2 linked regions of the Homo sapiens genome follow. The protein of the gene in region 1 purifies or fractionates together with the protein of each later gene. This does not show direct contact. Each region holds a gene or a part of one and is shown on either strand. Other genes may lie near its edges.

Evidence for each region. The genes of interacting proteins can lie anywhere in the genome.
Region 2: the proteins of IDH3G (region 1) and PPT1 purify together in Homo sapiens (co-immunoprecipitation; one large-scale study listed by IntAct). This does not show direct contact.

What each region holds. Positions count from the first base shown.
Region 1 is NC_000023.11:153,787,562-153,792,546, reverse strand, and holds part of IDH3G (isocitrate dehydrogenase [NAD] subunit gamma, mitochondrial isoform a precursor), read left to right. Parts: intron 1-1,695; coding exon 1,696-1,737; intron 1,738-1,971; coding exon 1,972-1,983; intron 1,984-2,254; coding exon 2,255-2,352; intron 2,353-2,722; coding exon 2,723-2,835; intron 2,836-4,411; coding exon 4,412-4,472; intron 4,473-4,591; coding exon 4,592-4,724; intron 4,725-4,949; coding exon 4,950-4,985. UniProt on the Homo sapiens protein: Regulatory subunit which plays a role in the allosteric regulation of the enzyme catalyzing the decarboxylation of isocitrate (ICT) into alpha-ketoglutarate.
Region 2 is NC_000001.11:40,086,978-40,090,992, reverse strand, and holds part of PPT1 (palmitoyl-protein thioesterase 1 isoform 1 precursor), read left to right. Parts: intron 1-1,480; coding exon 1,481-1,583; intron 1,584-4,015. UniProt on the Homo sapiens protein: Has thioesterase activity against fatty acid thioesters with 14 -18 carbons, including palmitoyl-CoA, S-palmitoyl-N-acetylcysteamine, and palmitoylated proteins. In contrast to PPT2, PPT1 can hydrolyze palmitoylated proteins and palmitoylcysteine.

The DNA.
Region 1 (4,985 bases):
ACCTCCCAGGGACACCAGCCTTGAACTCTGACCTGAGGGGCCAGTGGGGTGAAGGGGCAGGCGTGCTGTGTGGCACTAGCTACTGTGAGCAGCTCACACACCTCCTGTCCCCTAATCTTTCCAACAGTCACGGAAAGTAGGTACCTCCGTTCTGTGAATTTCAGATGAGGCCATGAAGCCATCTCAAGAAGAGTGGATGGTGGATTTGGACCGAGGCCTCCCTAGTCTCCAGATCTTTTTTCATTTTCTGATGTGCTTGTTCACTCAGGAAATGTTCCTTATGTGCCAGCTCTGGGCCAGGTACTGTGCTGGGTCCTAGGGTGACAGTATTGGACCACACTGACTTGGCCCCTCCTCTCGGGCTCAGGGGTTGAGGAGGGAGCAATGCAGTGATAACCTAGGGAAGGGGGTAAGTAGGGCCTTAGGGTCCCAGCTCAGTAGCCTTAGGGCATCAGGGAAAGCTCCCTGGAGGAAGGTCCATCGAAGCCGCTTTCTGCGTGCTTACAAGAGCCCCCAAATAAGATGATTTCAGATGTTGATAAGCGCTAGAGAGAAGACAGAAAAGTCCCGACCCGTTGATAAGCGCTAGAGAGAAGACAGAAAAGTCCCGACCGTGCCTGTGCTTGCAGATCCAGGTGCCACACAGATCAGCTGAGCTATCCTCGGGGCTCTGGTCCTTGTGGGCACCCTCTCCTAGCCCCTGGCTTGGACTGATGAGTGCCGGCCAGGGACACACAGACAGGGAGAGGTCAGACTCCGCCCGAGCCTTTCTGGACTTCTAGCTGGAAGGCATGGCTCTTTGGCCAATGGCTATGATGCTTCTGCCATTGGCTGGAACACTTTGCTGCTGCCTGGTGGTCAAGTGGCAGGGCATCCCCAAGTGACAGGGAAGACCTTGGCTCTGCCACCGTCTCAGGTGTGTTCTAGGTGGGGCTTCTTCCAGGACAGCAGGTCACTTGGCACCTGGCACATTTGGCTCAGGCAGCTTTGGCTCTGAAGCTGTCCGGCATTTCCAGTCAGGGCGTTGGGGACATTCGGCATCCAGCAGTCCTTTCCGAAGGCCTTCCTAGAGTTGGGTTTCTGTTATCAACCTTCCAGAAATGGCTGGATGTCCCTACACATTTGTTTTCGATTTCTAATGCCGAAGGGCCATTCCCCAGGGGGCCAGCAGTGCTTGTCTCAGGGAGGCCGGAGGCTGGGTGCTACCTTCTTATCTCCCTATTCTGCTTTTTCTGTAGCGACCACATGCTGCTTTTGTAATAAGAAAAAGTGATCGGCGAAGTGATAACGTGACTGTTGTCATGGATCTGTGGTTTGTTGTAATGATTTCCCTGCTGTACCAGGGTTAGTTTGCCAGTTTTTGCATGTTACAAACATCGCTGAGCGGGAATAACTGGCCAAAAAAATAATCAGAAGCAAAAAAGAGGAGGGAGGGCAGGGACACGCCTTTTAAGAAATTTTCTGAAGAGCGGAAGGAGGCAGGAGGCTGGAGCGCCTTCTACTTTCCAGGTGCTCCAGCGGGCCGGCCCTGGGGACTGAGGCTTTGGAGCTAATTATCTATTGTGCCCCTGGCAGTGGGCCATGCTGCACAGACAGGGGACCTGCCTGGGCACAGTGGGGACGGTCCGTTTTTCCTTCCAACTTGGCTTTCTGGGTTAGACATCAAACCAACCGCTGGCATTTGGTCTCTGCCAGGTTCTAGGCGCCCACGAGGTCCCCTCGAGGAACATCTTTTCAGTAAGTACCTGCCCGTGCCCACGCATGTGTCTTTCTCCATGTGGCCGCAATTGTGCGCGTGTGTGCACGGCCTGTGTCCTGTCCTCTGAGACGTGGTCTCCAGGGGCTACCCACCCCTCTTCTGGGAGTTGTACTAGCCAGCATCCCCCTGGGAAAAGGTCCCACTTTCCTGGTCACGGCCTTGCTCTTGGAACCTTGGCTGATTGTGTCTTCTTCCTTTCTCATCCTTTCTAGGAACAAACAATTGTGAGTATTCTTCTCTGCCTGTTAGGTTTGGGGGGCTCTTAGTTGCTTTGGGGTTAACTAAATTCCAGGTGGGGGTGGGCTGCTGCTGACCCAGGAGCCCTGGATGAGCAGCCCTGTCTGGGACGGGGCTGCCCCAAGTTGGCACCTTGTGACGGGGCAGCCTGTGGGGTCAGCGCCAGTGGGAAGAAGGGAATTGGCTTGAGCCCATGGGGGCCGAGCTGGGGGCATGTGGGATCCCCGAAGGCCCACCTTCACCCTCTGCCTCCCACAGCCTCCGTCCGCTAAGTATGGCGGGCGGCACACGGTGACCATGATCCCAGGGGATGGCATCGGGCCAGAGCTCATGCTGCATGTCAAGTCCGTCTTCAGGTATGGAGCTCCTGGGTCCCCGCCTTGTCCTCAGCCAGGGGGCCCTGAGGACTTTGTGCCAAGAGGGGCATTGCGCCCAGAAGCACTCGGTGAGGCCATGGCAAGACGACCTGTAAGCCCAGGCCTTGCGTCCCATGGCCTGTGATCCCGCCAGACTGGCCTGGGCTCGGGGAAGGTGGCACCAGTCCTGCCACAGTGTGCATTGTGGAGTTCAAGCGTGTCCCCATCAGTCAGTGAAGGTGGGCCCAGTCCCTTCTCAGTCAGAGCCAGGTCAGGGCAGGTAGCAACAGGAGAGAGGTAGCCTGGGCAGGCTTCCTGGAGGAGGTGCGGGGGGGTCTGGGCCAGCCTCCCTGACCCTGCCGTGCCTCAGGCACGCATGTGTACCAGTGGACTTTGAAGAGGTGCACGTGAGTTCCAATGCTGATGAAGAGGACATTCGCAATGCCATCATGGCCATCCGCCGGAACCGCGTGGCCCTGAAGGGTGAGCTCCAGGGCCAGGGGCCAGGATGGGGCCCTAGGTGTGATTTCTTTCTTGCTTTCTTCCTTCGTTTCTTGCTTACTTGCTCGCTTGCTTGCTTTCTTGCTTGCTTTCCTGCTTTCTTGCTTGCTTGCTTTTTTGCTTTCTTGCTTTCTTTCTTGCGTTCTTTCTGAGATGGGGTCTCGCTCTGTCGCCCAGGCTAGAGTGCAGCGGTGTGATCTCGGCTCAGTGCAACCTCTGCCTTCCAGTTTCAAGCGATTCTCCTGCCTCAGCCTCCCGAGTAGCTGAGATTACAGGCGCCCGCCACCACGCCCAGCTGATTTTTGTATTTTCAGTAGAGAGTGGGTTTCACCATGTTGGCCAGGCTGGTCTTGAACTCCTGACCTCGTGATCTGCCCGCCTCAGCCTCTCAAAGTGTTGGGATTACAGGCGTGAGCCGTCGTGCCCAGCCCCTGTGATTTCTTTTACCTCCCTCTGAGCTGACTCTTGTGGGGCCCCACGGCTCTGATTTCAGGGCTTGTCTGGCTAGAGAGGACCCTCGTGCTTGGAGACTGGGTGGACGCCTCCTCGGGCCTGTTTGCGCTGCGATGCTGGGATTCGAGTGAGAGCAGCTGTGTGTGAGCCTGTCCAGTGACGGGCTCCCTGATGGGTTCCCTCCCACCCCTCCTTCCCTCCTGAGACAGTCCTCTCTGCTGGGGTCAGCTTTGACCCTCAGCATCTTTCTTCACAAACCAGGTATCACAGAGATGCAGTTCCGACCCTCTGCCTGGCTCCTCGGCTGCAGCCAGCCTGGAGGTGGATGGCACAGCCCAGGCAGGGATTCTTGGGGCTTCACTTGAGGTCCTTAAACTACTTCCATTGCTCATTTTGCACACTCAGCCCATTACTTGCACTGTGTGAGGAGCGTGTGAGCAAAGATGAACCCAGGGGGAGCCCCAGGCCCTGGCAGTCAAGTAGAGGGGCCTTTGTGCCAGCCACAGGGGACCCCCGCGCTGTGAGTGGAGCAGTCTGGGTGGGGTACCGCTCACCAGCAGGCGGCCTCTGCTTGGCGCCCTCTGACTGCTGTCTCCAGCGGCCACTGGCCTCTGCTTCCCTTCCTCCAGGTGTCCTGGGTCGTAGGGTAGGGTCCGGCCAATCCGTGGCCTTCTCCAGGCAGCCCCCGCCTGCCTCTGAGTGTGGTGCCTTGATGCGGGGGCTTGGCAGTAACACCGCCAAGGCCACCTTGCTAGCTCCAGCCTGGCCGGCCAACCTGTTAGTAAAGAGTGGTCACTTTCTGTTGCTCCAGAGCCTGGATGGAGAATGGCATGGCTGCCTGGCTGGTTGCCAGCCTTTATTCATTTATTGACTTGTTCATTCCGTCGTTCAGGGGTTATTCATGGAGCACCTGCTGCACCAGGTGCCCTTCGAGATCCCTGAGCGTGTAGCCTCGTGGGGCTTAGGCTGGAAGTTGCATTCTAGCATTCTAGTGTTCAGGAAACATTTTTGCTCCCCAAGTCTTCTGACCCCGGCAGCCTTCAGCTGCCCTGCTGAGGTGGGGCGGGGATGGGCAGTGCCACTAAGCCTGTGTTGTGTTTTGTAGGCAACATCGAAACCAACCATAACCTGCCACCGTCGCACAAATCTCGAAACAACATCCTTCGGTGAGATCCGGGTGTGCGGGCTGGGGGCTTGGTGGGGCTAAGGTGGGGTGAGCCAGTGGAGTCTGGCTCCAGTCAGCCACCTGTCAGGCCTAGCAGCCTCTTTCTCCGTCCCCTCCCAGCACCAGCCTGGACCTCTATGCCAACGTCATCCACTGTAAGAGCCTTCCAGGCGTGGTGACCCGGCACAAGGACATAGACATCCTCATTGTCCGGGAGAACACAGAGGGCGAGTACAGCAGCCTGGAGCATGAGGTGTGCATGGGGGGCCCGAGATGAGCCCCCCCAGCGTCAAGATTAAGGGGAGAGCTTAAGGAACCAGGGACAGGTGTACCCTTAGAGGGCAGGGGCTGTGCCCGAGGGAGAAGCCAGAAATAGGCAGACAGGGTTGCTTCCCACGGTGGCCCGGTCGCGCCAGCTTGTTTGGCCAGTGCTGCTCTTCAGTAGCACATGGGTCTCTTCTCCCCATGCCCTCCTCAGAGTGTGGCGGGAGTGGTGGAGAGCCTGAAGATCATC
Region 2 (4,015 bases), on another chromosome or scaffold:
GAATTTAGGCTTAGGCAAAGAATAGTGTGTAAGCTCTTGTGTCTATAAATTTAAACTCTTTGAGAAACAGCAGGTTTTCTATTTTGACGGAATTCCATACTATTGGGGAAGGATGTGTCATTAGAATGGAATTTCATCTCTGTTGTTGATGGGTATAGCTATTAGCTGGTATAATGTGGGAGCAGAATGATTCTCCGTGTAATCAGGAAACCTGGACTCACCCAATTAACTATTACTCCTAGGCAAGTAATTTGGTATCTTAGGTTCCACTCACAGATGGAAGAAACCAAAATATGGCCCTGCCTGTCCTATGGGAATTTTTCAGAGGATAAAGTGAAATAATAGGTAGGAAAATACTTTTTAAAAGTATAAGGATTATACAAACGTAAGTTGGTAAAAACAGCTTTATTATTCATTCATTTAACAAATATTTATTGAAAACCTATTATATGCCAGGAACAAGACAGACAAGGTTCTTGCATTCATGAAATATATATATATACACACACACATGTGCACATATATGCACATACATACATAGACATATATATACACATATGCACCTATATACACACATACATAGACATATATAGACATATATATACACACATATGCACTTATATACACATATATACACACACACATATATATATATACACGATAAAATGGAGGATAGCTGGGCACATGGTGGTGTACACCTGTAGTCCCTGCTACTTGGGAGGCTGAGGCTGGAGGATCATTTGAAGCCAGGAGTTCAAGACACTGTGGTGTGCTGTAATTGTGCCTGTGAATAGCCATTGCACTTTAGTCTAGGCAACATAGCAAGACCCAATCTCTTGGAAAAAAACAACAGGATACTGTTCGAAGGACACACTAGTGGTTGTAGTGCTTAAAGGAGTGGGCTCTGGGGCCAAACTGCCTGTGTCTGAATCCTGGCTTATACCTTATTGTCTAACCTTGGACAAGGTATTTAACCTCATTTTTACAGTTTTCTATCTGTGATATAGGGCAAATAATGAAATCTACTCCACAGGGTGGTTGTGAGGATTAAATTAATTATTGCCAATATTTTGCTTAGAACTATTTGTGTTACTCAAAACAATGTTATTGATGAGGATGCTAAGGATGAAGTATAACTGGGGGAGGGGAAGGAAATGGGGGTGGGTACTATTTGAGATAAGGTGGTCAGATGTGACTTGTGTAGGACCAAGACCTGAGAGCTGAAAATGCGTCCAGCCATGTGATGCAACACATCCTCCAGGGATGAGCAGGTAAAAAGATCCTTAGGCAGGAAAGAGTGTAGCAGCACCAGGAGGAAGCTGGTGATAGTATTAGTTCTCTGCGCTTTATTTTCATGAGGAATAAGTGAATGAAATCAGAGTTTGGTCCTGTTCATTTTGTTTCTCACAGTGCCTTGTGCATAGTGGGTATTCGATACATCATTATTGAAGGAGTGGATATTTGTCATCTACCACTGTAGGTGTTTTTGGACTCCCTCGATGCCCAGGAGAGAGCTCTCACATCTGTGACTTCATCCGAAAAACACTGAATGCTGGGGCGTACTCCAAAGTTGTTCAGGAACGGTATGTATGGTTAGCTGAAAAGATTACAGACCTGTCACCGTGTGAAAATATCATGCTGACTTTCATGCTCACAGTGATTCCAGCAGTAGTTCCTTGTGATATTCAAATGAGATCTTTTTTTTTGAGATGGAGTTTCGCTCTTGTTGCCCAGGCTGGAGGGCAGTGGCGTGATTTTGTCTCACTGCAACCTCTGCCTCCCAGGTTCAAGCGAGTCTCCTGCCTCCGCCTCCGAGTAGCTGGGATTACAGGCATGCGCCACTACGCCTGGCTAATTTTGTATTTTCAGAAGAGACTGGGTTTCTCCATGTTGTTTAGGCTGGTCTCCAACTTCCCGAGCTCAGGTGACCCACCCACCTTGGCCTCCCAAAGTGCTGGGATTACAGGCGTGAGCCACCACACCCGGCCTTCAAATGAGATCTTTTTGTACTATCTGCTCAATTTCATTGTAAACCTAAACTTGCTCCAAAAAGTCTATTAACTAAAAAACAAAGAAAGAAAAACAAGGGCATTTTTCTATGTAAGAAGAATGTAATTATAACAGAATAAATTTCCATCCTTAAAAAACAAACAGAAAGCCTTTAGAAAGTACTAAGCTCAAGGAATTATTGTTGGTATTTAGAGGACAGATTCTTTATGTCATTAGCTACTCCCTATATCACTGTCCCTGACTACTCAAATGTATTTGGGTATTTAGCATGGCCAGCCTGGCATAATGGCTCACACTTGTAATCCCAGCTCTTTGAGAGGCCAAGGCAGGAGGATTGCTTGAAGCCAGAAGTTCACAACCAGTCTGAACAACATAGTGAGACCCCTGTCTCTGTTAAAATCTATTTTTAAAAAAAAAAAGATGCAGAATTACTTTTGTAGTATGTGCTTGTTCAGTTGGTTCCAAACTTAATTGTATATCAGAACCACAGGGAAATTCATTAAAAATGGATTCCTGGGCTTTATCCTTAGAAGTTGTGGGCCGGGCATGGTGGCTCACGCCTGTAATCCCAGCACTTTGGGAGGTGGAGGCAGGTGGATCATGAGGTCAAGAGTTCAAGACCAGCCTAACCAACATGGTGAAATCCCGTCTCTATTAAAAATGCAAAAATTAACTGGGCGTGGTGGCGCACGCCTGTAATCTCAGCTAGTCAGGAGGCTGAGGCAGGAGAATCACTTAAAAAACCCGGGAGGCGGAGCTTGCAGTGAGCCGAGATTGCGCCACTGCACTCTAGCCTAGGCAACAGAGGGAGACTCCGTCTCAAAAAAAAAAAAAAAAAAGTTTTGATGGTAGGTCTGACGTGCTCTTGATGATAGCTGGAGTTTGGGATCAACTAATATCCTGTGGGTTTTCCAAGTGTCTCATTCTTGTCAAATAACAACTTTTTATTACAGTATATTCTTGAAGCCATTTTCCAAGATACAGCCTTGTGACTGACTCATGTTGTAACCACCTACAGCTAATAGCTGTCTTTTCTTTTCCCACTCGTTGGCTACACAAATAGCCACAAAGCTGTTTTGGGTCAGCAGTACCACCTGATGGTTATTATAGAAAACTAAGATACTCTGTACCTCTAGCTCCTTTTTTTTACCCTCAGGCTACACCAAGCTTTCCCCTTTGCCTGGTTTGATTGGCTGTGGCTAATTACAACTTAATTATTTATATTCTACATATTCTCTGTTCTCATGGATTTGCATGGTATTTAAACTTCATTCTTCTTCCTTTACTCTTTATTCTCACTCTTGCCCAGTTGCCTCCAAAACGCCTATACTTTTCTTTCTTTGTGTGAACCAAAACAACCCTTGGCGATCAGAATTCTGTTAGTGATGCTAAGTGAGCAGTCCGTCGGGGGGTGACAAGTGACACCTAAATACTGATTAAGGCGGGGCGCAGTGGCTCATGCCTGTTATCCCAGCACTTTGGGAGGCCTTGGTAGGCAGATCACTTGAGGCCTGGAGTTCAAGACCAGCCTGGCCAACATGGCAAAACCCCATCTCTACTAAAAATACAAAAATTAGGCAGGCGTGGTGGTGCACACCTGTAGTCTCAGCCACTCCGGAGGCTGAGGCTAGAGAATTGCTTGCACCCAGAAGGCGGAGGTTGCAGTGAGCTGAGATCGCACCACTGCACCCCAACCTAGATGACAGAGTGAGACTCTGTCTCAAAAAATAAAAATAAAAAATACTGATTAAAAGCTATAGATTGATGTGTTTATCTTCACTTCCTCCTTAAACTTTAATTAAGTGGTAGCAGAAGAATAAAAAGTGATAAACCCACAAGGGCAGAGAGAACAGGGAGAGAGGAGGTAAGAGATCATAAAAAATGGCAACATGTTTTTGAAAGCAAGCAAGCAGATGAATGAGTGTGAGAACTGTTTTAGCAGAGCAGATGGTGAAGGCTTAAAGTAATAAAGAGAAATCATTTTGTCTTTGTGATACTGTCCCAG